Regions from separate parts of the Homo sapiens genome. Here regions 1, 2, 4, 5, 6 and 7 are each linked to region 3. Evidence: fine-mapped expression QTL. A gene starts in region 3. Each other region holds a variant in brackets. All regions are shown on one strand. Distances are from middle to middle. Region 1 overlaps PER2 (period circadian regulator 2). Region 2 has its middle 30 kb from the start of LINC01107. Region 3 holds the start of LINC02610 (long intergenic non-protein coding RNA 2610). Region 4 overlaps TRAF3IP1 (TRAF3 interacting protein 1). Region 5 overlaps PER2 (period circadian regulator 2). Region 6 has its middle 11 kb from the start of TRAF3IP1. Region 7 overlaps LINC01107 (long intergenic non-protein coding RNA 1107).

Evidence for each region. PIP is the estimated chance that this variant, and not a neighbour inherited with it, causes the effect.
Region 1: its variant is fine-mapped to the expression of LINC02610 in whole blood (TOPMed, PIP above 0.99).
Region 2: its variant is fine-mapped to the expression of LINC02610 in whole blood (INTERVAL, PIP above 0.99).
Region 4: its variant is fine-mapped to the expression of LINC02610 in left ventricle (GTEx, PIP above 0.99).
Region 5: its variant is fine-mapped to the expression of LINC02610 in whole blood (TOPMed, PIP 0.97).
Region 6: its variant is fine-mapped to the expression of LINC02610 in whole blood (INTERVAL, PIP above 0.99).
Region 7: its variant is fine-mapped to the expression of LINC02610 in whole blood (TOPMed, PIP above 0.99).

The regions. Positions count from the first base shown.
Region 1 is chr2:238,268,391-238,272,457 of GRCh38, forward strand. PER2 (period circadian regulator 2) reads right to left here. Exons shown (of 23, transcript NM_022817.3): 6 at 2,922-3,123; 7 at 533-584. Among named protein-coding and RNA genes, the nearest start is that of PER2, 18 kb to the right of the region's middle. RefSeq lists an enhancer at 2,582-3,081. The variant G/A (reference allele first, on the strand shown) is at 2,216.
Region 2 is chr2:238,582,995-238,587,061 of GRCh38, forward strand. No RefSeq gene overlaps it. Among named protein-coding and RNA genes, the nearest start is that of LINC01107, 30 kb to the left of the region's middle. The variant C/G (reference allele first, on the strand shown) is at 2,060.
Region 3 is chr2:238,229,513-238,233,579 of GRCh38, forward strand. LINC02610 (long intergenic non-protein coding RNA 2610) reads right to left here and starts at 2,165. Exons shown (of 3, transcript NR_026926.1): 1 at 1,822-2,165. It also overlaps the pseudogene TARDBPP3.
Region 4 is chr2:238,335,132-238,339,198 of GRCh38, forward strand. It overlaps TRAF3IP1 (TRAF3 interacting protein 1), which reads left to right. Exons shown (of 17, transcript NM_015650.4): 8 at 3,231-3,326. Among named protein-coding and RNA genes, the nearest start is that of TRAF3IP1, 17 kb to the left of the region's middle. The variant G/T (reference allele first, on the strand shown) is at 1,910.
Region 5 is chr2:238,250,954-238,255,020 of GRCh38, forward strand. It overlaps PER2 (period circadian regulator 2), which reads right to left. Exons shown (of 23, transcript NM_022817.3): 19 at 1,959-2,749; 20 at 646-808. Among named protein-coding and RNA genes, the nearest start is that of HES6, 13 kb to the left of the region's middle. The variant G/A (reference allele first, on the strand shown) is at 2,488.
Region 6 is chr2:238,307,288-238,311,354 of GRCh38, forward strand. No RefSeq gene overlaps it. Among named protein-coding and RNA genes, the nearest start is that of TRAF3IP1, 11 kb to the right of the region's middle. The variant G/A (reference allele first, on the strand shown) is at 2,505.
Region 7 is chr2:238,551,427-238,555,493 of GRCh38, forward strand. It overlaps LINC01107 (long intergenic non-protein coding RNA 1107), which reads right to left. Exons shown (of 3, transcript NR_037809.1): 1 at 3,048-4,067; 2 at 1-121. Among named protein-coding and RNA genes, the nearest start is that of LINC01107, 2.0 kb to the right of the region's middle. The variant G/T (reference allele first, on the strand shown) is at 2,462.

The sequences.
Region 1 (4,067 bases), 39 kb after region 3:
TTAACACCCCCACCAGTGGGGCAGCCTGGAGCAGCCTGCACCCTGGGTTGGTAAAGCAGACAGAAAAGGGGTGCTGCTCCCGCCAGGGGTCCTCGGCCCTGACTCCTGAGGGTGCCAGGGTCTGGCTCGGGGTCACTCCTGACAGTGCAGCTGGATGCTCAATCAGTCACCCTGGTTTGGACCAAGACCCTTGTCGGGAAAGCTACGGGTCTCTCCCCAGAAAAACGCACAGACAACCAAAAGACGCAGTGCTTTCAGAAACTCTGTCGACCCTGGGGTACAGGCCTTTGCAAGACACAGAGAGAAAGTGCAGGTCCATGAGGGGCAGGTTAAAGCACTCCACTGCTGGCCGCATTCTTAGCGACCTGTACACATTTAAAATGTAACTGACTGTGTTTTCTGGTAGACTTCAGAAACAGGCGTGCTGAGTCCCTGCAGGCAGGGATCACGCCCCCCAGCCTCAAGCGGAGCAGTGCTGGGGTGAAATGTTTATACGGTTTTCTAATTTAAGAAAACTGGGAACCAGGCTTACCTGACACGGCAAAAGAAAGATTTCTCCTCCATGCATTCTTGAGTAAAAGAATCTAAAAGAGAGAGCCCAAAGTCATTCATCCAAACCAACAACTAAATACAGTGTTCCTCATTTCTCACAAACAAAAGAGGAGCAGCAGAATCAAGCAAGATTCAAGGTGAAAACTGAAAATTTATGGAAGCACAAAGTAAATCCTTTATGTGAGAAACCTTCTATTACATTTTTGACTAAAATTACATAGACTTCATGAGTGTGGTGCATTACAAATTATGCAGTGCTAAAATTTTAGCACCAGGAGGCTTACATTTTCAAAATGGCACATGATGTTGCTGCAAACACACCAATTAATTAACCACTGAACACACTCACGGTGCACTGCTGCAAACACACCAACTAACCTGCAACTGAACACACTCACGGTGCACTGCTGCAAACACACCAACTAACCTGCAACTGAACACACTCACGGTGCACTGCTGCAAACACACCAACTAACCTGCAACTGAACACACTCACGGTGCACTGCTGCAAACACACCAACCTGCAACTGAACACACTCACGGTGCACTGCTGCAAACACACCAACCTGCAACTGAACACACTCACGGTGCACTGCTGCAAACACACCAACCTGCAACTGAACACACTCACAGTGCACTGCTGCAAACACACCAACTAACCTGCAACTGAACACACTCACGGTGCACTGCTGCAAACACACCAACTAACCTACAACTGAACACACGGTGCACTGCTGCAAACACACCAACTAACCTACAACTGAGCACACTCATGGTGCACTGCTGCAAACACACCAACTAACCGACAACTGAGCACAGTCACGGATGTCCAGAACATTGACAAAGAAAGCTGTGGAGGCCACAGCAGCTATATCTTGGAAGCTAAGCCTCCATGCTGATTTTTGATTAACCCCACTTCTGGGAAGGCCTCGGAGATTTCATCTACCTACTGTCCCTGAGTAAGAGCAGGTACTTAAGGTAAATCCTGCCCTCAGGGCAAATTCCTACTGGTTCCCTCTGAAGCCGGTGTGCCAGTCCCACAGAAGCCCTGGGTCTGGGGGAATGGCAAGACTGGGATCCAGTCTTGTCTCATCGCCACCCACAACATGCATGGCCTCTGTTCTTAAGTCCCTGTTAAATATTTCTTTCTAAGAAACCGAATTTGTCAGCCTCTTTCTTTGGCCTCTCAGCTGCCTCAGACTTTGGGGTAGGTGTGCAGAGGCCTGGCCACAGTGAAACAGAAGCCCCAAACATTTCATGCTACATATTTTTGGGATAGTCAGTTCTAACAGAAACAACTTGGCATTCAAGGCTTACATCGGTATTTTGGTAAAATAGTAACTTCCTTTAAAATGTGAAATGTCTAGTGAAAATATGAAATCAATTGGGCAACCTCATCAGAAATGAAGGAAGAGGTGTTTCCCTAATAGTTGAAAGGGATTTAAAAAACAGAAATCTCTGCTTTCGTGGGAATCTAAACTAAAAAAAAAAAAAATCTTAGATCTAGGTCTTTCATACATTTCATCTACTCAAAAGAAATTAGGAAAGTAGAAGCAATGGCTAGTTACGGAAAATGATATAAAATCAGCAGCTTGGAAAGGCCCCTGAGAATTCACCTGGTCCTTGACTTAGCTGGGCAGGGAGGAGAGCTGGGGCACAGGAG[G/A]CCCTGAGGAGAGTGGGGGTCAGAGGCACCGGCAGAGGCCCAGAGGCAGGCACACCCCCAGCTGGCTCCAGGGACTAGACCAGACCCGGCTGGGAGGGCCTGGCTGGGGAGCGGAGCCTGGAAATGAGGCAGGGTAGACGGTGGCTACAGGGGCAGGCCCAGCAGCCAAGAAGGCTGCCATCCACAGTGCAGCACACTTGGCCTGCAGTGCCTCGGGGGCCAGCGGCATCTGCCCAGGGATCTCACAGTCTGTATACCCAAAGCCAGCCCTGGTCAAGGCAAAGAACCCTCAGGAAGTCACTCTGGGATATGACCCACTCACTGGTTGCAGCTGCTAAGGTGGCAGGGGGACGCCTGCGTGCAGGGAGCAGGGTGCCTTGCTCACGCTCCCCACTGCCCCCACGACCCGGCCTCCCACGACTGCAATCACAGCAAGATTCCAGCTTTTCCAAACAACTTCATTTCTAAAATGCCTAACGGTTTTCTCTCTCTGAAATGTATGGAAAGACTATTTTTTTCTCTAAATTTATTCTGAAGGGACGAACAACTGCTTATCCTTTACCTTTGCCAGAGCAGGCAGCTGGCGGCCCCCACAGGTGGGCTCTGAAAGGTGAGGCAGGGCGCCTGCACCACATCTGGGTTGGGCCCAGCTCCTGGCCCCTTTCCCGACCCCAGAGGGAACAAGGCACTACCTCGATAACCTCACCTGCTCCACTGCACATGCTCCACAAGGGAAGCTTGTACGGGGAGGTGAAACTGTGGAACACGCCCACATCGTGAGGCGCCAGGAACTCCACAAACTTGGCATCGCTGAAGGCATCTCTTTTACAGTGAAATATGGATGCAACCTGGTCAGAGATGTACAGGATCTTCCCAGACACCAGGGACACGGCCACCGCAAACATATCCTGAAAAGGAAGAGTAGGGCTCTGATGACAAGGTCAGATGGTGTCGGACGCCACATCCGACTCAGGCAGGCAGGCTGGAGGGAGCCGCCCACCAGGAGCGTTGGAGGTGGGGGGCTCTCTGACTCCCTTGCCTAGCCCTCACCAAAAAATCCTATCTTGCCTGTTGACAGAGCAGGAGCATCGCCATCTTGGACAAGCCCCTCATTCTAAAGTTCACCTTAATAAAAAACAGCCTACATCCAAAGGGCATCAGCCTAATGGCTAAGGTCAACATGACCATAAACCACAAATAACATCTCCAACCAGAAACATTCCAAACTCCTCCCGGACCAGAGACATACTAGCCCCGAGATGACCCCAATCCGGGCCGGAAAGATGCCTGCCCCAAGATAACCTCCCCTCCTCCCAGAGAGATTCCAGCCCCGCCATAAACTTCTCCACACACAGAAACATTCCAAGCTTGTGATAAGCCCCCTCACCCTAAAACCAACATATACTCTCAGTCTGTAAGAGAAAGCGCTCCTGACCAAAATCGGCCAGGAGTACCTCTCAGGTTTTAACTAAAGAAAACCTGTCTTTGACTGCCAAGCTGCGTTTCATGTTTCTTTCCTCTTTAACTCTTACACCTGTTACAGATACTGGGAGGTCCAGCATGATATTATTTGAAACAACACATCAGGGTTCTATGGCTGGAAGAAACCCCAGCTGTCTCCACCCCCTGGGAGGCGCCACTCACCCCGCTGTCTTGGACATGGCACCTGGTGTCCAGGCTGGGTGACTGGGAGGTGGGGGACCCTCTGCTCACTTGGCCTGCCCTAACAACCTCCACCAGCCTTGCTGTCTCCCAGGGTTCTAGGGGCTTCCTGGGGAGGAGAGGCCTCTGGTTGGGCCCCTCCAGCCCACCATGGGCGCTCTACCTGCTGGCTGGCCCTCTGGGCTCAGGG
Region 2 (4,067 bases), 350 kb after region 3:
AACCATCAGATCTTGTGAGAACTCACTATCATGAGAACAGCATGGAGGAAACCACCCCAATGGTCCAATTATCTCCACCTGGTCTCTCCCTTGACATGTGGGAATTATGGGGATTATAATTCAAGATGAGATTTGAGTGGGGACACAAAGCCTAACCACATTAGTAGCTATACCATTTTTTCATTCCCACCAGCAATGAATGGGAATTCCTGTTGCTCCACATCCTTGCCAGCATTTGGTGTTGTCAGTGTTTTGGATTTTGGCCATGCTATTAGGTGTGTACTGGTATCTCATTCTTTTGATTTGCAATTCCCTAATGACATATGATGTGGAACATCTTTCTATACGCTTATTTGCCATCTGTATATCTTCTTTGGTGAGGTATTTGCTCAAGACTTTTGCCTGCTTTTTAATTGAGTTGCACATTTTCTTGTTGAGTTTTAAGAGTTGTTCTTTGTATATTTTAGATAATAGTCCTTTATCAGATGTATATTTTGCAAATATTTTCTCCCAGTCTGTGGCTATTCTTTTCATTCTTAAGCATTAATCGATTTTCAAATGTTGAACCAACCTTGCCAACCTGGGATAAATCTCACTGGGTCATGGTGTACAATTCTTTTTATACATTCTTGGACTCAATTTGCTAATATTTGTTGAGAGTTTTTACGTCTATATGCATAAGAAATATTGGTCTGTAGTTTCTTTCCTTGCAACGTCTTTGGTTTTGGTATTAGAGTAATGCTGGCCTAATGCTGAAATGAGTTAGGAAGAATGAGTTAGGAAGTATTAAGTAGTATTAGAATGAGTTAGGAAGTATTCCTTCTGATTCTGTCTTCTGGAAGATATTATAGAGTATTGGCATAATTTCTTTCTTAAATGTTTGGTAGAATTCACCAGGAAATCCATTTAAGTCTAGTGCTTTCTGTTTTGGAAGGTTATTAATTATTGCTTCAATTTCTTTAACAGATAAAAGCCAATTTATATTGTCTGTTTCTTCTTGTGTGAGTTTTGGCAGATTGTGTCTTTCAAAAAACGGGCCCATTTCATCTGGGTTATCAAATTTGTGGGCATAGAGTTGTTCATAGTATTCCTTTATTACCCTTTTAATATCCATGGGCTCTGTAGTGATGTATCCTCCTTTATGTCTGCTATTAGTAATTCATGTCTCCTTTCTTTTTTTTCCTTAGCATATTAATCACAGTTATTTTAAATTCCTGGTCTGAGAATTCCAACATTCCTGCCCTATCTGAGTCTAGTTCTGACGCTTTGTCTATCTCTCCAAACTATGTTTTTTGCCTTTCGGTATGCCTTGTAATTATTTTCTTGGTAGCCTAACATGACATCCTGGGTAAAAGGAACTCTGGAAGACAGGCCTTCAGTGATGTGGTGTAAGGCATGGGGAGAGAAGTGAAGGGAGCGTCCGTCCTATAGTTCTATGAGTAGGTCTTGGTCCTTTGGTAAGACTATGTCTCTGGACTGTGAACTTCACAAGTGTTTCTCAGTTTTTCTCTCCCCTCCTAGCTAGGACATAATGTGTAGAGGGGGTTGGAGCTGGGTATTTCCCTTCCTAGGTAGTTAGGCTCTGCTAAAATCCCAGCAGGTTAGGCTCTGGTAATGTAGTTTCTTCTGAGGGCAGGCCTCAGAATGCCCCAGTGTAGTTTAAACTGGTTCCTTTTTCTCTCCCCCTGCCAGAAGCATGAGGAGATTCTCCCCTGATTTCATTGTGAGAACCTGGTGGAGCTCCTGGAGGTAAAATTCACAAAAGAGGCCAGGGCCCCCTGTGATTGGGCCTGCCTGGAGTTTTTAACTCTCAAACTTGCGCACCCTGAGCCTCTGGCAATTTGTCATTTACAGCCCAGGGTTTCGACGCAGGCCTGATTCCTGCAGATGTGTCTGCTCTGGTGGGCTGGGATTCTCTGTGTCCACCTGTTTTTTATTTTTTCTTTCTTTCTCATAGTTCAATTTTTTTTTATTATACTTTAAGTTCTGGGATACATGTGCAGAACGTGCAGGTTTGTTACATAGGTATAGATGTGCCATGGTGGTTTGCTGCACCCAT[C/G]AACCCATCATCTACATTAGGTATTTCTCCTAATGCTATCCCTCCCCTAGCCCCCAACCCCCCAACCTTTTTTTATCTTCAGTTTGGAAAGCAGCAGTTTGCCCGGAGACCTCATTTCTCTGGTAGACCCAAGAATAGTTGTTAATTTTTCAGTTCATTAAGCTTTTCACTTGTTAGGATAAAGGGATGACTTCTAAGCTCCTTACGTGAGGAAAAGGAAACCTGAATTCTGACACTATTTTAAAATTTAAAATAGTGAATAGAAACCAGTAACCATGGAAACCACTTTCCCCCAAATAGATGGACTTGACCAAAAAATCATCATACAAAATTTATTTTTCTATGATGAGAATGTGTTATTTCTATAAAAAACTTGTTATTTAAATATTAAATTTTGAGGGAGGATCCTACCTTTGACCCACTACTTACACTTTTATGTATGATGCTAAGCCCAGAGCAGGGCCGGGACCTGGCTCTCCCCTCACCCTTGAGACCATGCTCCTTTCTGAGAGGGAGAATAAAATTCATGTAAAGGGAGATAAACTTCATGAGCAAAGATGTCCACAGTGGTCAGTCTTCAAGAATAGTCTGGAAACACCGTACGTGCTCTGATGTTAGAACAGAATGAGGGCAGCCGACGTGAAACCTAGGTTTAAAAAGAGTCTGAGAGCAACATGGAAAGGCAAGACCTGAGCTTGTAAATTCAGTGTTTCAAAGTTTCATAGATTCCAAATTTTCCATAATATAAATATTTGTTACATTTATATTTAGAAAACCTGTTATAAAATGTCACTGAGTGAAGGCCCTCTAATCTTTTTGCCCTGCTCACCCCTCTAGTGGTAGCCAGGCCCCTGCCCTAGAGCTGAACCTCGGTGAGGCTGAACTTTCCTGCATTGTGTTGGCTCCCAGCTGAGCCACATGTAGTTGGTAGCTGATTTTTCGGTCAGGTTGGTCTATTTGGGGGAAAGCGGTTTCCGTAGTTGCTGGGTCTACCCTCCAGGTTCCCTTGTTCAGCTCAGCAAAGTTCCTCATTTCCTGCCACTGCACTGTCAGCCCGGCTGTCCTCTGCCCCATGGCATTTACATTCTTCCAACCAGAAACTACAAACAGCAACAGCAAGAAGCTGCTTTGCACAATGACTGAAAAGCCACGAGGGTCTCCCCGCCAAGACGAGCAGGCTGGTGGGGCCAGCCCTGGAGTGGTCAGGCGGCAGGGCCAGCGCGGGGTGTCCAGGTGGAAGTGCGGCAGCCTCTGGGAGATGGGAGCTGCTGGGGGTGCGCTGGGGCGGATGACCACACCACGAGGCTCTGTGCACTGGCAGGCCCAGTCCCCGTCACATGCGGGTCCAAGACACTCCACGGCAGCATTCCTGCTTTGACAACACGTTTCCCACTTGGAGTGAAATCAGTCCGTGAAAATCTCTGCCTGGGACTGCCTGCTCTCTGCCCAAGTGCAGCAGCCGCAGAACAAGCCCGATTCTCCGAGCCCCGTCAGCCGTCCATGTGAATCCTTTCGAACATGAAAAGGAGGCGCGCTGGCCTCTGGCTTGTGTCTTGAGCCTTTGAATGAGCAATTCCCCTGCCAAGAACGTGTTCTGAATGGCTGTTTTGTGTGGTGGGGGATAGTTCTTTGCAGATTCAGAATCTAGATGACTACTAACGAGCGTGAAGCGCCTGGTGGTTTTGGAAGTAAGCCTTCCCAGACTTCAGAACCCACGTGAGTCCCCCGACTACAAAGAGCATATTTTAGCTGCTGAGTGAGGGAGCAGCCAGTGGAATCCCATGGCCGTGTGTTAGTCTGGGCTTCCCTGAAAACAGGGAAGGGAGACTTGGATGCAAGTGGTTTAGTTGGGAGGAGACGCCAGGTGAGGCTTGTGACCTGGGAGAGAGAGCAGGGAGGAGAGCTGAGTGGGAGGTCAGTGAGCAGAGTCCTGGTGTGGTCATTGGGACTCAGCCCCAGGATCCTCTGAGGAACTGTTGTTCCCCCAAGGGACTCTAAAGCAGGCTGC
Region 3 (4,067 bases):
GTGGGATTCCTGAGAGGCGACAGCCAGGGGCATTTGGATAAACTCTATGAGAGCTCCAGAGAGGGCTGGGCTGGAAATAGATTTTGCAGCTGGTAGCACAGCAGGTGAAGCCATGGAGATCATACAGATTACAGCCTAGAAGCTAGAGAAGAGGGCCTAGCAAAGAAATGTGGGGCACAATATTTAAGAAGACAATATTCGCCGGGCACGGTGGCTCATGCTTATAACCCCAGCACTTTGGGAGTGAGGCAGGTGGATTGCTGGACCAGCCTGGGCAACACTACAAACATCTCTCTCTACAAAAAAAATACAAAAATCAGCCAGGCATGGTGATGTGCGCCTATAGTCCCAGCTACTTAGGAGGCTGAGGTGGGAGGATCACTTGAGTCTGGGAGGTCGAGGTTGCAGTGAGCCATGATCGTACCACTGCACTCCAGCCTCCAGCCTGAGACAGAGTGAGAACCTGTCTCAAAAAAAAAAAAAAAAAAGACAACATTTAATATCCAGTTGTGAAGAGCCACTGCCAGAACCTGAGAAGGAATGGTGGAACAAGAAGAGCAAGAAGACTAGACAGAGAACAATTTTTTGAGATAAGGTCTCACTCCCATTGTCCAGGCCAGAGCACACTGGCGTGATCTCAATTCACCGCAGCCTTGACTTCCCGGGCTCCAGTGATACTCCCACCTCAGCCTCTCGAGTGGCTGGGACTACAGGTGCGGGCCACCATGTCTGGCTAATTTTTTGCATTTTTGGTAGAGATGGAGTCTTGCTATGTTGCCCAGGCTGGTCTTGAACTCCTGGGCTCAAGCGATCTGCCTAACTCAGCCTCCCAAAGTGCCGGGATTACAGGTGTGAGCCACCGTGCTCTGGCAAGAACAATGTTTTAAGAAGCATGAGGATGTTGAGTATCAAATGCCGCAAAGTTCGGGTGAGAAAACTGAAGAGTCTACTCGGCAATCAGGAGTTCATTGGAGACTCTGGCAGAAGTTTTCTATAGTAGAATGGCAGGAAATGTAGCCATACTGAAATTTTGTTAGGGACAAACAGGTGATGAGGAAATGAAGAAAATGAGAATGAAGACTGTTTTTAAGAAACTGGAGTGTGAAGAAAACAGTAGGACAATAAGTAAGAAACCTCAACGGGGTGTGAGGACAAGTTCCCCAGGATAAAGTGGATAAGATGGAGGTTGGCACTTAAGATTTGGAGCAGGTTCAACAGAGAGGAATGGCAAGGTTTGAGGGATGGTTCCTGACGTCTAAGGGCGCATTTAATATTCTTTCAAGGTTAAGGTGGGGCAAGATCTGGAGGAGAGAGGATAGTACCCCAAGTGTCATCATCCATTGACAGGTCAATAGGTAGTACAGCGACATGGGAACAGAGCAGGTGTGCACAGAAAGCATGGTTTCCCAGGGAGGGCAGTATTTTTCCATGAGGATGCAAGAGTGAAAAGCCTGGGAGATTCCACGAAGAGCTGAGGGGCTTCTGAGCCACAGCTTAAACCTTAACCCTCCTCCTCTCAGATACATTCAAATCCAAGTACTGATAATAATCTAGTAAGACCTGGGCTTCCCTGGCTACCGTCTATCAAGGAATGCCAGTGTCTGCCTCTGGGCAGTGCGCGTTGGATTTGGGTTCTCTGCGGGGTCTTGCTGATCTTAAAGACAATGCAGGGGCCTTGTGAGTCTCACCTCTGTACCCCCAGCACATAACAGGTGCTCAACACATTCGCGAGGGGAGCGCTGAGCAAAGCGGAGGCCCGGGTTCCCTCCTGGAGAAACCTGCTTCCCCTCCAAGGCCTCAAGCGTCCGCTCCTTCACTGACCTCAATCGTTGATTTCGGCTGCACTTCCTATCCCTGGGGGAGCTTTCAACGCTCCGCCGTCCAGGCCGCCGGGCCCCGCAGCCCGCGCCCCGCTCTCTAGGGCTGGGCCCCCAGGGGCTGGACGACCTCTCTCGCCTTCGCTTTCTCAAGCGTAAATCGGGCGGCGGGGGCTGCAGAGCCTTCATCTCTTCCTCCGTCCCGGGATGTCGGAGAGACGGCAGCCCAGCCTCCGCCACCGCAAAGCTGCTTAACGGGCAGCGCGAGTCCCTCGGGCACCGTTGGAGGCCGTTGCTCACCGTTGGGCAAGTGCTTTAAGAAGCACGAGGATGTCGAGTGTCAAATGCGGCAAAGGGCTCAGAGCTCGCCGCCAAGGGGCGTGGCCTCCGGGCCGCGGCGGCCTCTGGGAGTTGTAGTCCCGCCTCAACTTGTGGTGGCCTCTTTAAAAAAACAAAAAACAAACAAACAAAAAAACACTGGCGCTTGGGTCCGTCGCTGCCTCGGTGTCCCTGTCGGGCTTCCCAGCAGCGGCCTAGTGGAAAAGTAAAAGATGTCTGAATATATTCGGGTAACCGAAGATGAGAACGATGAGCCCATTGAAATACCATCGGAAGACGATGGGACGGTGCTGCTGTCCACGGTTACAGCCCAGTTTCCAGGGGCGTGTGGGCTTCGCTGCAGGAATCCGGTGTCTCAATGTATGAGAGGTGTCCGGCTGGTAGAAGGAATTCTGCATGCCCCCGATGCTGGCTGGAGAAATCCGGTGTATGTTGTCAACTATCCGAAAGATAACAAAAGAAAAATGGGTGAGACAGAAGCTTCATCAGCAGTGAAAGTGAAAAGACCAGTCCGATTTAATAGTGTTGGGTCTCCCATGGAAAACAACTGAACAGGACCTGAAAGAGTACTGTAGTACCTTTGGAGACGTTCTTATGGTGCGGCAAAGCCAAGATGAGCCTTTGAGAAGCAGAAAAGTGTTTGTGGGGCGCCGTACGGAGGACATGACTGAGGATGAGCTGTGGGAGTTCTTCTCTCAGTATGGGGATGTGATGGATGTCTTCGTCCCCAAGCCGTTCAGGGCCTTTGCCTTTGTTCCATTTGCAGATGATCAGATTGCGCGGTCTCTTTGTGGAGAGGACTCGATGAAAGGAATCAGCGTTCACATATCCAATGCCGAACCCAAGCGCAATAGCAATAGACAGCAAGAAGTGGAAGATTTGGTGGTAATCCAGGTGGCTTTGGGAATCAGGGTGGATTTGGTAAGAGTAGAGGGGGTGGAGCTGGTTTGGGAAACAATCAAGGTAGTAATATGGGTGGTGGGATAAACTTTGGTGCGTTCAGCATTAATCCAGCCATGATGGCTGCCCCCCAGGCAGTGCTGCAGAGCAGTTGGTGTACGATGGGTGTGTTAGCCAGCCAGCGAAGCAGCCAGGCCCATCGGATGATAACCAAAGCCAAGGCAACATGCAGAGGGAGCCAAACCAGGCCTTCGGTTCTGGAAATAACTCTTGTAGTGGTTCTAATTTTGGTGCAACAATTGGTTGGGGATCAGCATCCAATGCAGGGTCGGGCAGTGGTTTTAATGGCGGCTTTGGCTCAAGCATGGATTCTAAGTCTTCTGGCTGGGAACGTAGACAGTGGGGTTGTGGTTGGTTGGTATAGAATGGTTGGAATTCAAATTTTTCTAAACTCATGGTAAGTATATTGTAAAATACATATGTACTAAGAATTTTCAAAATTGGTTTCTTCAGTGTGGAGTATATTCAGTAGTATTTTTGACATTTTTCTTTAGAAAAAGGAACAGCTAAAGGAATTTTATAAGTTTTGTTACATGAAAGGTTGAAATATTGAGTGGTTGAAAGTGAACTGCTGTTTGCCTGATTGGTAAACCAACACACTACAATTGATATCAGAAGGTTTCTCCTGTAATATTTTATCCCTGGACTTGTCAAGTGAGTTCTTTGCATGTTCAAAATGGAAGCCATGAATTAGAACTACATTCTTTATTCCTTGTTTTAATTTGAACCCCACCATATGGATTTTTTTCCTTAAGAAAATCTCCTTTTAGAAGATCATGGTGTCACAGTTTGGTTCTTTTGTTTTGTTTTTTAACACTTGTCTCCCCTCAAACACAAAAGTACAATATGAAGCCTTCATTTAATCTCTGCAGTTCATCTCATTTCAAATGTTTATGGAAGAAGCACTTGGTTGAAAGTAGTGCTGTAAATATTCTGCCATAGGAACACTTC
Region 4 (4,067 bases), 110 kb after region 3:
CTACTAATTATATTTGGTTTGGTTTCTGATTTGCCTAAGTGTTAAACTGTTATGTGCTTGAGGCCTCTAATCTTTTTTTTGGTAATCTGTCCAGAGATTTGAGAGGTGAAGATTTGTGCTTTATCATACATTTTTTTTTACTTAATTTCTTATGTTATCTCTTACTTTAATTCATGGTATAAGGTGAGGCTCTGAATCTATTTTGTCAGAATAATCCATCCGTGGTTCCAGGATCACTTATTCATTGAATGCTTCTCTCCTGCTCTGTGAAGCCTTTTGTAGTCTGGGTTACGGGCTTTTTTGTGTGTGGTGTTTTTTACTTCCACTTTTTTATTTTTACTATTAGTTTTCTATCATTGTTCTTTTCCAAAAAGTTTTAAGCCATCTTATTTGCTTATTCTTCCGGATGAATTTTAAAAACTCTTCATGACTCAAGAATTCCACTCTTGCAAAATAAACTAACGTCTCAGAATTTAACTGGACTTGTGTTAAATATATGCTTTCATTAGTTTAGGAAGTTTAGGCACCTCTAACTTCAGCTTAGTGAAGGTGTCCCCCTCTTCTGAGAACACGTTGCGTGTACTTGGTTGCGTATGTTGGTCACAGTGGTTGCTCGCTGGTTTATTTTATTTTATTTTATTTATTTATTTATTTATTTATTTATTTATTTATTTATTTATTTATTTTGAGACGGAGTCTCACTCTGTTGCCAGACTGGAGTGCAGTGGCGCAATCATGGCTCACTGCAACCTCACTGCAAGTGATTCTTCTGCCTCAGCCTCCTGAGTAGCTGGGATTACATGTGTATGCCACCACGCCCAGCTAATTTTTTGTATTTTTAGTAGAGACAGGGTTTTACCATGTTGGCCAGGCTGGTCTCGAACTCTTGACCTCAAGTGATCTGCCCGCCTCAGCCTCCCAAAGTGCTGGGATTACAGCTGTAAGCCACTGTGCCTGGCCTGTTGTTGCCTCTTAATCCAGTAGTTCTTCTGTTGATTCTTTTGGCTTTCCTAAGCAGACAGTTGTATCATCTGCTCTTCTTTTCTAATTGCTTCTGATATGTGCATCTGTGTTTACTGGTGAGCTTGTGCTCTAGGGTTCTTTTGTATGGTCTTAAGAGATTTTATTAGCAGACATTTATGGGCTTTTTGACACTGAGCTTCCCTGAGCTATCAACAGCTCAGTGGACTCCTGTCTTCCCCTCCTGCTAGCCGGGCACTGACCTCCCTGTGGGTTCCCCAGCAAAGCTGGCACTCTGCCTGAACATTCTGCCTCGCTTAAGTAGGTTCTCATTTGGGCAAATGCTCAGTACCCAGAGGTGTGTGACACACTGGACCTCTGTGTCTTGCTCAAGGGGATGAATGAGACTTTACTACAGGGTGTGAGGGTATCACATTGTTAAACATATTTAGACTCTTAAAGTCATTCTGGAATCCCTGCAGAATCCAGAAAGCATTCTGCCTGAGAATATTATAATTTTTGCTTATTTCTAAGTAGTGCATACAGAGCTGATCACTTTGACTTAATGAGTACATTTTAATTTCATTTGTTTGTTAACTGCTTTACATTACATTACAGATTAAGTTTAATATATATTTTCATTGTGCAATTTTATGTCAGGAAGAAGGGACCCTAAAACCAGTGAAAATAGTCTTTCCCCTGAAAAGGAACATAACTTTTCCTACTGTAAAGCTAAGAAGGAACATAGCATGAAACAGCTTGGTAAGCTAAGTGAACCATAGTGGAGGCTGTGAGTGAATGTTGAGAGTTGAAAGCTTTACTGCCTGGTCCTGTGCTTCTGCTTGGTCATTGAACATGTGGAAGTCTGTGGGGGTGGTTGGCATAGGTGTGGCCCTGCTTGACCTGGGGCCTGCGCTCTAGAACACTGCCTTCTGGCCAGGGTGGAGAG[G/T]GGGCAGAGGGACATGTTGGCCCCATGCAGGGCTGCCCCTGGCCAGGTGAGGATTTCCTACCCTGAGTCAATCACAGGCTTAAATTGTCCATTTGAGCCTTCCTTCACTGATTCTGCAGACATTTATGATAATAAAGAGAACACAGGGGTACATATGTGCATGTTAGTTTGTGATGAATCTTCAAGGAAAATGAAGCCAAGAGGAGCAGGAATGAGGGGCGTGAGCAGGGAGGGCCTCTCTGAGGGAGGACATCTGGACAGAGAGCTGACTTGGGTGAAGGAGGACATGCAGGTGTGTGAGTGGTGAGGTGGGTGGAGAGAGGAACAGTGATAGGGGAAAGGGCCGGGCCAGGAAGCAGGGCCTGGAGCTGCTGGTCCCGGAGCTGCTGTTCCCGGTCCACAGCAGCTGTGTGGTTTACAGTGAGTGCACACAGAAGTCCTTGAAGAGTTTTAAGCAGCACCGAGGCAAGATTTGACTTAGGTTGTAGAAGGCCTCCTTTTAAAACTGTGGAGTGGCAGGAGTAAAGGCTGCAGCGCAGCGAGGAGGGGGCCATGGCATCTGGATGAGAGGAGGTGATGGTTTGGACCAGAGTGCCAGTGGTGACAGCAGAGTGGGTTTACTGTGCTGGCAGGTTGGATGCCACTTGTTTGAACGGAAAGGAATCAAAGATGAGATTCATTGTGGGAGGGGTCTGGGCTCCTAGGGGGTGGCCTTTATTGACATAGACGGTTCTGGGAGACACTGGTTGGTGGAATGGGTGGCAGTGTTAGGAATTCTGTGTTGGACAACAAATTTGAGATGGCTATGGACCAACCAAGTAGAAACATCTAGTCGACAGCTGGATATATTGACTTGGAGATCAGGAGAGAGCTGGAGAAACCAAAGGGAAAAACAAAAAATGGAGAGTTCTAGCATACAAGTGATGTTTACGGACATGGACCTTTGCGCAGTAATTAGTCCAGGGGCGTGTGTAGGTAGGAAAGGACGTGGTGAACTCCAGAGCTTGCTGTGGTCCCCCAGGTCAGAAGAGGAAGAGGAGGAGGAGGAAGAGGAGGAGGGAGGATCATCCTTGCAAAGGAAACAGAAGGCCAACAAGTTGGAGGAAAACTTGGAGAGGAAGAAAGTGTTAGGGAAGGAGAGGGGGCTTCTTGTCAAGCTCTAAGGAGGGGAATCATGTGGAGGCTGAGAATTGACCATTTAGTTGACAAGACAGTTTGCTGGTGACCTTGGTGTAATGTAACCCTTATAAATCCCAGCTAAAACAACCAAACACAAAATCTTTTATAATATTTTAATCTGTTGTTAACTATTTTATGTCAGGAAGGAAGGAGGATAATATTTCAGCTAAAAGTTTAGACTCCATAGTGTCTGGAATAAATAATGAGCCAAATCAGGAAACGACAACATCAGAAATAGGTAAGAAAAATATATTCTTTAGTTTAAATTCCTCACCACTTTAATGTGAATGGTTATATCTCAATGTAGTTATACATTGTTAAAAAATTATTCTAACTACTTTAATGTTCATGAGACTTTTTCATGATGTATTGAAGACTGGACATAACTTGAGGTTTTATTTGCTTTAATATGCTAAGTTATGTAACTTTATTAACTCAGCTTTTAGTTAATTATATGCCTTTTTATACATAGATTATTTTTACATTTCAGTCAAAATGCTTTCTTAATCTTGCTGTCGGGATCTCACAGTGGTGTGGCTGATGACATAGAGAAACGGTTTTTATGTCTTCGTCCTGCTCTGCTTTATTCTACTCAGAAAATGCTCGCAGTAGAGATGTTTAAAGTGCTAGTTAGGCACGTTGGGGAAGTTGGCCTGTCACAGCCAATCACATTCAGTCCAGCCGTGTGGTGGGTGTGCCCAGCCCTCGTCCTGCTGCCTCAGAGGGGGTGGTCCTTGGTTCAGTATCAGTAACCACTGTCATCTGTGACTTCAGACGGAATTCTTCAAGATGCTAGAATTCTTCAGTTTCACTTAAGGTAAAAATAGTGTAAAATTAGACTTTAGGGGAAGAGGAAATTTTTGCTGGGCCCAACTTGCCTTGTATCTGTCTGACTTTTACACGTTCTGGAGCGTAGCTGGAATACCGATCAGCACATCCTTCTCTCTCTGTGTGCGTTCCCCTGAGAGCTGGCATTTCC
Region 5 (4,067 bases), 21 kb after region 3:
ATTCTTTCCTGTGAAGCCCTGAGCAGCTCAGGTGGAGCTGCGTGTTAGAAGCCTTGACCTTCTCTCCCAAGCTCTCACCATCTCCACTCATGTGGACCACAGGGCACTGCAGTTTCCCACAAGGGGAGGCAGCTGGCCTGGAGCGCTCCCTAGCCAGCCTCACCTGTGCAGCACGCCTGCGAAGGGAGGCGAGGTGAAAGCTCACTCCAGAGAAGTAGGGGAGCTTCAATTTTGTGGAGAGTGTGTACATTTCTGGTGCCTGAGATTCCAGATCACATGTGAAAGATCCCAGCGGGTAGAGGCTTGCAGGTGCTCCATACCCTCAGTTCACACAAGTGGAACTAAAGCAGGAAGGCAAACCACTATCTGGGGAGTCAGAGGGCTGGTCCCACAAGGAGCCAGGGTGTGAGGCCTGTAGGCACTGAAATCAGAAGCAAACAGGGAGGATGTGGAATTCTGACTAGCTAGGGCCAGCCATGCTGAACAGGGAGAGTGTGTCTGTGTGGGTGTCTGCATGGGCTCTGACAGCTGCTTGGGGAGTGCCGGTGATCCCTGTTCTGAGCACAGAGGCCGGCCTGTGACTCTGGAGCAGTGCATCCTGCAGGAACCTCCCAAGTGCCTAACACCCCGCCAGGGCCAACATACCTGCCCCACTCGGGGAGGCGTCGCAGCCCAGTGAGCCGGAGCCCAGAGACTCCGAAGCAGCAGAGCCCGAGGCTGAGCAGAGGTCCTCATTCAGCAGGAGGTTTAGGAGGCCGCTTGACGTGGAAAGGGCGTCACTGTTCTGTGTGTCTGAGGGTTCATCACGCTTTAGGGACAGGAAGCAGATACTGCTGTTCAGGGGCTCAGTCAGGACACAGCATATGCAGCGGGGTGGGGGTGGGGGGCATGAGTGGGGTGAGGGTGGAGGGGTGCTGTGGAGCGGCTGCAAGGTTCACGGCCAGGGACGGCCTAACGAGCAGACCACGCATCACCACCAGGCCTACGGTGCAAATTCCACTGATGCTCTATGGATGCCGTCTAGTTACATTTAATTTTCGGAGAGTCACATGGAAGACGGCAATACCTGGGCTCCAGGGGGGAAAGCCTCAGGCTGCTCCTTGGCCACAGCCCCCTCCTCACATGCAGCAGACATGGATGGGGAAAACGCCTCTCACAGCACCCGGTGTGGGGGCTGCCTTGGGATTGAGGGCGGGGCCTGGCCTGGGGAGCATCCCTGACCCTCCTCTCCTTGGAAACCCAGACTGCAGGCCCAGGACTCCAGAAGCAGGAGCCCGGAGGTGGCAGGAGGACTGGGAGAAGCTCCACAGATCTACATGCTTGCACTTCCTCACCCGGGAGCCCTAGGTCCTCTGGCCAAGGCAGGGAATCGCCTGAGGCCTACGGACTGCACTGCTGCTGGCGTTCCCACACACTTGAGCTCGTTCAGAAACACAAGCGTTTAACTGCAAATACAACTACCGTTTCATTAACTGGTTAAGAATCTCACACAGTGTCCCTACGCCTGCGGAGGATGGAAACTGAGGTCACGCTGGTTTTAGGGCTGTGTCCCCCTCCTTCTCCGCCTTCACCGGGGCCACCTGAGCCAGGCTCCGGCGCCACACCCTGAGGAGCCCTAGCTCTGGTATTTAACCTGACTGTGCTTTATCTCTGAAGCGTCATTTAAAAAGTCGAAGCCCACAAATACTGTCAAGTCACATGCTGCTTTCTGGAGTCTGTATCACAATCTCTCCTCCTTCATTCAGATTCCACGACAATAAAAGGCTTCGAATAATCTACTCTGATAGGATTAAGTGGGAAGCATGAATTTCTGGCACACACATTCATGGCAAAACCTACAGGGTTTGGTGGAAACCTCAATCGTGTAACCCCCATGTCTGAACTGAGGATGTGCGGCCGGCCTGCCAGGTGTGCTGTTTGCTGCCTGCTTTGGGGAAAGAGCATCAGAAAATCCTTACGGTCAGAGGCGCCTTCGGCTGCTGGTCCCGAGAAGTGCCAGGTTTGCAGTCCGCCCCTACAGCTGCTGTCTCTGTGGCCCCTGTGGTCCCCATGGCTCCAGTGCCACCCTCAGGGGCTTCCTCCAGCTGCAGCAGGTTGAGCTGCAGGGGCGAGCTGCTGCGGGACTGAAAGAGCGGTGGGGAGGCCCTACCCATGGCCGATGGTGGGGTGGCCCGGGTGGCTGGACAAGCACATGGCTGTCTGGGGATCGAGGTCCGGCTGGGGAACTCAGGCTGTGAGGCAGAGGCCATCTCGGATGTGAGTGTGGGGTGGCTCGGAAACTGAGGCTGGCTGGGGAAGAAGGCCTGGGGCAGGTTTGGGGTCCCCGAGGGGAAGGAATAACTGGGTAGCATGAATGCCATGACAGGCGCCAAAGGGGCAGGGAAAGGTGGGGGCTGGACTGCAAACTGGTGCTGGAGGTCCACGGGCACAGCAGGCACTGTGAAGCTGGCGTGGGGAGGTGCCGGGGGTGCTGCCACAGTCCCTGGC[G/A]CTGGAAACACGGGCAGTGAATAAGCTGCTGGCACTGGGGCGGGAAAGGGCACGGCTGGGCAGCTGGACTGGGACGTGTCTGAGGGTGACCAGGCTGTGGCGTTCAAGCCCACCAGCGGGGGCCGGGCGGACACGGGCCCCCCAGATCCGGTGCTCTCAGATGAGTCTCGAGGTTTGACCCGCTTGGACTTCAATTTTCTGTTCTTTCCTGTTTTTTTCCAAGGTGAATCTATTCCGGAAGTATTTCTTAGTCCAGGGGCAGCTAATGCAGAAAAACAAATACTCGGAGTTAAAATTTTAACTCCAAATTTGAAGACACCTCTTCGTTCAACAGTCCTGGGTTTCCAAATGCTGGCCCAGGGCCTGCCTGGTCCACCGAGCGGTTTTCCCTGATCCTCAGTGAAGTGAGAAAAATCAGGGCAAAACATCAGGTTTTTCCATAAAACTAAATTGAATCAACTTAAATTACAAGCTCTTAATTGCAGGACACATTCCTTATTTTCTTCTGGTATTAAATGTCCTTTCTTTTATGAAATGCTAATATGATAAGTGGTAATACAAAGTTCTATTTGTTAAATAAATACACTAAAAAGCTGTCATGTCTCTGCTGTTCCCCAGTATTTGGGGGAAAAATTGGTTAGTGAAATCTGAACGGGAGAGCCACTGACCTCCTCTATTTTTCAATTTATAAGCACTGTCACTACTGTTCCTTAAAGAGGGATGTTTCCTCTTTCACCTGTCAAACAGCCTGAGCAAGATCAGAGGGGAGCATTGCCTTGCAACCAAATTCTTCCTCTGCAATAACGAGTGCTGCTGAGTAAGGCATTCTTCAGGAAGATGGAGGGACTCAATTGGTAAAGGAGGGACTCTGGGTATGTCCCCATGGCCTCCCTGGGGAGTGGGAGGGGGATCCAGGGAACTTTGGTTTTCCTCTCACATCACGCGGAGTGACTTGGGGCTCTTGCAGCAGGTGTCTGGGACATCTGTCAGCTGTGCCAAGGCAGTCCCATGCCTTTGGGATGTGCTGAAGGGAAATGGGCTAGTCCAAGGCAAACTCCTATGTAAATGGAGGTTTTGCAATTCAGCCTCTCTATCTGGTGTTCTTCTCACAAGAAATCTGTCCCCTGGTGGGAACAGTGGCTAAAGCACTGGGCTCCTGGGATGTCATGTCTGGGTCTGGCAGGGCTGCCCTAGGCAGCTCTGTAGTCTGTGCACTGCATAAGGCTACAGAGTTGTCTAGGGGGCAAGCAAGAGCGGGAACTCTGCACTAGGCTGGTCCCATGGGGTGGGTCTGCTCATGGCCATGGAGTACACCTTTTTCTAATTTCTACAGAGGTTCTCTATGGGCTGGCAGTAACTCTTGAATCTGGGGAAGAAGGAGAGAAAGGAAAGAGTGGAGAAGACATAATCCTCAAGGAAGCTGTGGGCTTAATTTCTTACAAATTTCCCTTGGTGCGTCTGCCCAGAGACCCGGGGGAGCTGGGTCCTTGTGGTGAGTGGCTTCCTGGGCTCACTGGCTCTGATCCCTGTGCCAGCGTCCCAGGGGGAAGGGAAGAGGCCCCATCTCTAACAAGTGTCTG
Region 6 (4,067 bases), 78 kb after region 3:
TCCAACCACTGGGCCCCTAAAAACTTCACCGATGCAGCAGACGCCTGGAACTTCACAGGGTTTCTCTCCCACCCTCTGCAGCACACGCACCTTAATAAGGCCTCTGAGGTTTCTCCTCGTCAATCTGGTCATCCAGTTTAATTAATAGGATATCAGTATACTGAACCAGTGCAGCATTGTGCAGAGTGTCTGGTCCATCCAGACTATATTAGGAAAGAGGGAAAAGAGTTAATATGGCCCTGGGGTGAGACAATCAGTGTGTATTCTTCTTCTTCTTCTTCTTTTTTGTTTTCTTAAGACGGAGTCTCAATCTGTTGCCCAGGCTGGAGTGCAGTGGTGCAATCTCGGCTCACTGCAACCTCCACCTCCCAGGTTCAAGCGATTCTCCTGCCTCGGCCTCCTGAATAGCTGGGATTACAAGCGCCCACCGCACCCGGCTAATTTTGTGTATTTTTAGTAGAGATGGGGTTTCACCATGTTGGCCAGGCTGGTCTCAAACTCATGACCTCAGGTGATCTGATGATCTGCCCACCTCAGATCCAAAGTGCTGGGATTATTGGTGTGAGCCACCGTGCCCAGCCAATGTGTACTCTTATCCATCCTAAATGAATGTAAGCGGCTTCTGGTTCTCCTCTTAAGTAGGGATGGAAATGAATGTATTGGCTTCCTACCATGGACTTGAGATTGTGTTGACCTGCTATAGCAAAGATACCACAATTGGGGCTCCTATTTGTTTGGGTTTGCAGTATTCCACTGTCAATCCCCAGGATCCATGTGGTTTTTGCAGGGGTTTGGCTAATTAAATGACTCTATAATGGGGAGAAAGTATACCTGCATCCTTCAGGTTTTAACAGTGGAATCTATTCGTCCCTTATAATTGCTGTAACTCTCTTCAGCATGCAATATTGGTTTTTATTTACTGTCTTGGCTGGGGGAGGGGCAGTGTCAGGGATTCCCACTCAGCTTCCCAGGTCTATAGCTCTTATTCCACAATCCCAAGTATCTGGCCAACATGGGGTTACCCCATATGCCAAGTGTGTCCACTTCAATCATTGCATTTGAGGGCTCGGGAAATGACCACCAGGTGGCTCCATGGACCCTGTGGACCTACCAAAATCCAAAGTGGGGCTAGGGCTCTATCACCTGACCCCGTATGCCCTCCCTTTAACAGGAGTCAAGATGATGCTCCATGTCCCCAGGATTCTGTGTGCAATAGTCCTTGAAATGGTTCTGTATTCCCCCTCCCTGTGTATAGTTACTTGAATGAGTGGCCTTAGGTTTCTTTGGGGAAGGACTGTGGGGGAGATTTTGGCTCCCTGCACCGGCAGTGATGTTGGGAACCTGGCCTTTCAATGAGTTCTAGGTCCAAAACCAGGCAAGGGATTGTAGCGGGGGACTGGGGCAGCCACTCTCAGCCTCCTGCTCATCCATGTTTGATTTATTTTAGTTTCGAAAGCTCGGCCACACCCTTGCTGACTGCTCATTCCCCTGGTCCCTAGGAACATTTTGTTGTATTATCCGGCCGCATAGCTCTCTGCATGTCAGGTCTTCCTGGCTACCACTCTGACCTTGCCACTCTTGGCTATAAAAACCAATATTACATGCCAAATATTGTCACTTTGGTAAATGAAGTGACCTCCGAGCCCTCTCACAGGACACAGTGGGCTGGTAGGTTTGCTGGCCCAACATCACGTATGTGCTCTAGTAGGCTCATTTCCCTACCATCCTCCATGGTGGGGCTGGAAGTTTTCCTTCACTTAGTGAAGGCCATAGCTCTTTGCAGGTGTCCAAGAGCCATTCTAACAGCCCATTAGCACTGTCTCCCTGGGACCCAGCCAGGGTCACAAGCTTCTATCACGGAAAGTCCTCCCACATTCATCAACTCTTGTCTTATCCGTCTTTATATTCTGTCCCCTGCTGGGTCCAGCACTCTTGGGATGCAGTCCTGGATGTGCTCTCCTGGATCTTGCTGGTCCATGCTAGGCAGATCCTGCAGTTCCTTCGGAATAGAGTCCCTCCCTCCCTTAGCAGGCCAGCATGTCCTAGCTAGGTTATGTTGTTGTTTGACCCTCATGATTGGTCTGGTGTCAGGAGGGGGATATTGGCATAGATCCTGAAAAACGCATGCATTGTCTTGCAAGGCAGACATCTCTCTCTCTCTCTCCCCCCGCCCCCCAACTATAACACACACATTCTCTCTATATAAAACACTTCAAGAAAGGGGGTGCTAGCCTTTAACAGGAGCAGTGGGCCTCCTCTGTAGGTCCAGATGATTCAGGAGAATCTGGGGATTCTAGTTTGTTTGTTTGTTTGTTTGTTTGTTTTTGAGACAGTGGTCTCTCACGCCCACCCTGGGGGCTTCAGTTGAGCCGGTCAGTGGTGATTCAGCTCCGAAATCTCAATTTAGGGTCCATTTCCTCTGACCACTTCTGAGAGCAACTCTCTTGGGTAGAGATCTCTGGGAAACTGGGTTTGCACCCCCAACTCCATCAGCCCTTGAATGC[G/A]GGTGCCCATAGGGAGCAGGAGGCACAGTAGGCCCCTTTGGCTAAGTCTCCCCAGAAGGGAACCTGGCTGTGAGCCCACAGGGATCACTGCTTCTGGCAGCTGGGGCAGTGTGGGCCTCAGCCCTGAGTGGCACAGCACCCACCACAGGGCCAAGGCAGCCATAGCTGAGAGGGCCACGCCTTTTTTTTTTTGAGACGGAGTCTCGCTCTGTCACCCAGGCTGGAGTGCAGTGGCATGATCTCAGCTCACTGCAAGCTCCGCCTCCCGGGTTCATGCCCTTCTCCTGCCTCAGCCTCCTGCGTAGCTGGGACTACAAGCGCCCGCCACCACACCCGTCTAATTTTTTGTATTTTTAGTAGAGATGCGGTTTCACCGTGTTAGCCAGGATGGTCTCGATCTCCTGACCGCGTGATCTGCCCGCCTCGTCCCCCAAGAGTGCTGGGATTACAGGCGTAAGCCACTGCGCCTGGCCAGGTTTTGTTTCTGGCGCCCGGCTGCGCCACTCCTTTTTAAAGACTTCCTCCTTCCTCCTTCAGGCACCCACACGTTCATGCAGCCAGTATTCATGGGGTGCCCTGAGGAGACATATGGACCCTGTCCCAGCCTTCCTGGACCTTGTGCACTAGCTGGGGAAAGTCATGCCCTTGTTTAAGCATGGGCCAGGGGGAGCTGGACAGCACCGCCGGAGCTTGGAGGAGGACTCCTGGGGTCAGTGGGAGTCAACTGCAGGCTTTCAGGGAGTGGCAGGTGGGATATTTCAGGTTGGAGGGCTCAGTCAATTTACCTTCAACAAAAGTGCCAAGAGGCCAGAGGTAGTGGCTCACACCTGTAATTTTGGTATTTTAGGAGGCTGAGGTGGGAGGATAGCTTGACCCCAGGAGTTCAAGAGCAGCTTAGACAATATAGCAACATCCTATCTCTACAAAAAAAAATAAAAATTAGCTGATGGCCGGGCGCAGTGGCTCACGCTTGTAATCCCAGCATTTTGGGAGGCTGAGGCAGGTGGATCATTTGAGGTCAGGAGTTTGAGACCAGCTTGACCAATGTGGCGAAACCCCATCTCTACGAAAAACACAAAAAAATTAGCCGAGCGTGGTGGCACATGCCTGTAGTCCCAGCTACTCGGGGACGCTGAGGCAGGAGAATCGCTTGAACCCAGGAAGTGGAGGTTGCAGTGAGCCGAGATCGCACTACTGCACTCCAGCCTGTGCAACAGAGCGAGACTTCATCTCAAAAACAAACAGACAAAAAATTAGCTGAGCATGGTGGCACACGCCTGTAATCCCAGCTACTTCAGAGGCTGAGGTAGGAGGATTGCTTGAGCCCAGGAACTTGGGGTTACAGTGAACTATGGTTGTGTCATTGCACTCCAGTCTTGGACGCAGGGCAAGTGACACTCTGCCTCAAAAAAAAAAAATGCCAAGAACACACATTGGGGAAATGATGATTTCTTCAATAAACGGTGTTGGGAGAACTAGATCCATATGCAAAAGAATGAAACCAGACCCTCATCTTGCACCATATACAAAAATCAGCTCAAAATGGATTAAAGACTTAAATTT
Region 7 (4,067 bases), 320 kb after region 3:
CACACCTCAGGAATGATCCAAGACACCTCCTGGTGCAGTGCCTGCATCTCAGGGATGATCCGAGGCACCCTTAGGTGCAGTGCTCACACCTCTAGTATGATGCGTGGAATCTCACAAGCACCTAGTGATAAGAAAAGGATCATTTACTAAAGGAACTTGTGAGGCTGGCCTCAGAACTATCTGAACATTGTGTTAGGCCAGTATTTGTAATTCTTCAGGTGAAGAGTCTGTGAACCCAAGATTTTCTCTTAGCCAAAGTTCCTGCTTGTATAAGGCAGCAGAAGACAATATCTCATGTAGGAGAACTTGTTTCCTGTGTATGCACTTTCTCAATTAAACAATGTAATCAACAGCAACAGCTATTACTACTACATGAAGAATTATTTCAGCCAACCAAAAGATGAATCCAAATCATAAACTAAACATGGATTGGACAAAGAAAGGGTGGATGGTGAGCAGGGAATTCGTTTAAATGTGAAATTAAGTCCAAATAATAGTCTTGAGTCTGGACACACATCAGAACATAAACGTTTCCCTGATCACTAATCTAATCAGGTTTCCATGTGGCTGATGGAGATTGTAAAGTGCCACCAATGATAAGGTAAGTGTCACTCTCTAAGAAGCTGAAAAGTTTTATATTGCAATCTGAATGTTTGTGACCCCCCAGCCCCTATAAATTCATATATCGAAATTCTAACCCTTAAGGTGATACTATTAGGACATGGGGCCTCTGGGAGGTGAGTAGCTCATGAGGATGGTGCCTTCATAAATGGGCTTAGTGCCCTTCTAAAAGGGGCCCCAAAGAGCTTATTGGTCCCTTCCACCATGTGAGGACACAGGAAGAAAGCACTGTTTATGAGCCGGAAAAATGGCCCTCACCACACAATGAGTCTGCCTTGATCTTGGCCTTTCAGGCTCCAGAACTGTGAGAAACAAATTTTTATTATTTACAGGCTACTTAGTTCATAGCGTTTTGTTATAGCAGCTGAACAGACCAAGGCAGACTACACGTCTATTGTGGAATTAGTCACATCTCTCTTCCCTTCTAGACCGCAGTCTCTCTGAGGACAGATTATTTATTCCGAGGACATATTTTGTTTTGTGTATGACTGAGCCACTAGCAGCAACATAACCTGGAACTTAGGGAATAATCAATAAGTATTTTCTGAATAAATGTTAATAATTTTAATAAGATAAAAATCACAACAGATTAACCAAAATGGCAAAAAATGTGCAGAGAATACCAACCAAAAATAGGATGCTAGGGAAGTTGGAATAAGTGTAATTCTGCTAACTTATTCACTTTGTTTTGTTACAGTAGATCATAACGTTCAGAAACACAGGATAAGAAGTATTTTTAAAGTTATAAAAAGAATTAAGGCTGGGTGTGGTGGCTCATGCTTGGAATCCCAGCACTTTGGGAGGTCAAGGTGGGAGGATTGCTTGAGGCCAGGAGTTTGAGACCAGCCTGGGCAACATAGAGAGATCCCCTCTCTACAAAATTAAAAAAAAAAATTAGCTGGGTGTAGGTCTGTGCACCTGTGGTCCCAGCTGCTTGGGAGGCTGAGGCAGGAGGACCGTTTGAGCCCAGGAGTTCTGGGCTGCAATGAGCCGTTATGGGGCCACTGCACTTTAGCTTCCTCATGATCCTTTGGACATCCCACTCCACTCAGCAGAATTAACTTCTCCCCGTATTCATTTCCTTATATTTATATAAAAAAGAATTACAATGAAAACAACAACGATGACTGTATTCTTCCAAGGTATAGGAGAGGACAGAGAGAAAGAAGACAACCTAACAATATGTAAAACAACAATGGAAGAAAACCCCTAGGAAGCATTCCACCAGGAGATTGAAATAAGATCGTATAAGACAAAATGTATCAATTATAATTATAAATGTAAATGGGATAAATTTACCCATTTTAAGAAAAAGACTCTCGGGGGCCACATAAGCCCAAAGACTTTTTGTGTGTTTACAATAAGAAAAATGAACACAGAATCATGAGAATATTTCCAAGTAAATAAAAAAGAAAATAAAACCCAGAGTGAAGTAGGAGTCACGATATTAATACTAGAAAATTTGAGTTCAAAGAGGAAAAACTGCATGAAGAGTGTTTCTTTTTGTTGATAAAATGTTCAATCCATAATGAAGTTATATACTTCCATAAAACTAAATATAATAGACAGTATTAATATTTATTTGAGAGGCCGGGCGTGTTGGCTCACGCCTGTAATCCCAGCACTTTGGGAGGCCAAGGCGGGTGGATCATGAGGTCAGGAGTTCGAGACCAACCTGGCCAAGATGGTGAAACCCCATCCCTACTAAAAATACAAAAATTAGCTGGGTGTGGTGGAGGGTGCCTGTAATCTCAGCTACTCGGGAGGCTGAGGCAGAGAATTACTTGGACCCGGGAGGCAGAGGTTGTAGTGAGATTGCACCATTGCACTCCAGCCTGGG[G/T]AACAGAGCGAGACTCCGTCTCAAAAAAAAAAAAAAATATTTGAAGTGGGATTGGAACCACAGGGAGAAACTGGCGGCACTACAGCTGTGGGCACTCTTAATCTCCCAGTCCCTGGTAGGTTTTGGAGACGAAGGTAAGTGGGCTTAACAGGTAATAATTGCTCCGTATTACTCAGAGTGTGGATGATGTCACATTACCTTTTCCCTCCAAATCAAATAAAATTTAGCCAAAACGTCCATATGCAAAGACTGGTAGCAAGTCTGACATTATTATTATTTTTTTTTTCAATTGAAGCCTCACCCCTCCCTTGAACTCAACATGGGGACTTCTTTCTGGACAAAGGGGAGAGACCTGGTCCTCTGTCCAAGGTGCGTTCTGCCGCTGCTGCCCCCCTCCCAGGCCAGGCCTGTCCACTCAAAGCCTGGCAGCTCCAGCAGTGAGTCAAAGCCCCTGTGCCAAGTGGGGCCACAGGGATGCGGCCCCCCCGTCACCCCCACAGCCCCTTTGGCAGCCCTTCTACCCCAGGCCTGCAGCTGAGGGCCTGTCTGTTAGCTCTGCGGGTGGGCTGGAGGTGTGGTCAGTTACCTTTAGCTCCTATCTTGGTCCATTTGGGCTACCGTAACAAAATACCGTACACGGCGTGGCTTAGGAGCATCAGGAATGTGTGGCTCACAGTTCTGGAAGACGGAGGTCCGAGGTCGAAGGCCCAGCAGCTTCGGTGTCTGGTGCGGAACCGCCTTCCAGCTGGTAGGTGTCGTCTCTCAGGCCTCTTTGATGAGCCTGATCCCGTTCGTGAGGTTTCTGCCTCTGTGACCTCATCACCTCCTAATGTGAGGCCCCGCCCTCACTTGGGGATGAGGATTCCAGCATGTCCGTTTGCGGGGGACATATTCTGACCGTTGAACTCTTTAAAGCAAAGCCCTAATTTCTCCTCTTTCTTTCCTAGTGGGGCTGATGGCGCAGTGGGAAGAGTTTGACTGTCCAGATAGCCTAGTCCCAGACCCCAGACCAGAAATCCTGTTTAGGGGCTCAGTATTGAGAAAGGCAATGTCTGGGTCCCCCTTCCTCAAGGCTGGGCAAGCGGCCCTGCCCCTGTGAGAGGTGCTGCCCCTGCTACTCAGCCCTGCCCTGCGGACGCAGTCTGCTGCGGGGGTTTCTTGGCAAATTAGCCAACACATCAGGGTCTCGAGTATGCAAATAATGGAAGACTGACATGGAAGTAGTCTATGTTGTAACCATCCTTGCGACAGAGCCCACCTGACTTGCTGTGTCCCTGGATCCGCAATACATTCTAAATGCTGGAGACAGTAGAGGTCACATCTCCTAACTACAGTGTAATGACAGTCAAAATAAAAATTCAGGAATAAATTGGAACAAGAAGACTCGCTTCCTGGGAACTTAAAACAGTCATCTCATGGATAAAAGAGAAAAACCAAATCAGCAGTGACACAATATTTAGAAAAGAACAAAAAAGAAAAAGTTACATGCTAGAGCTTATTAGATGTAGCTTGGACTATACTGAGAAAATAATTCCACAGTTTAAAAACTGTTAAAGGAAATTAAGAAATCACTTGAAATGAAAGACAAACAAACCCAAGGAAAGCA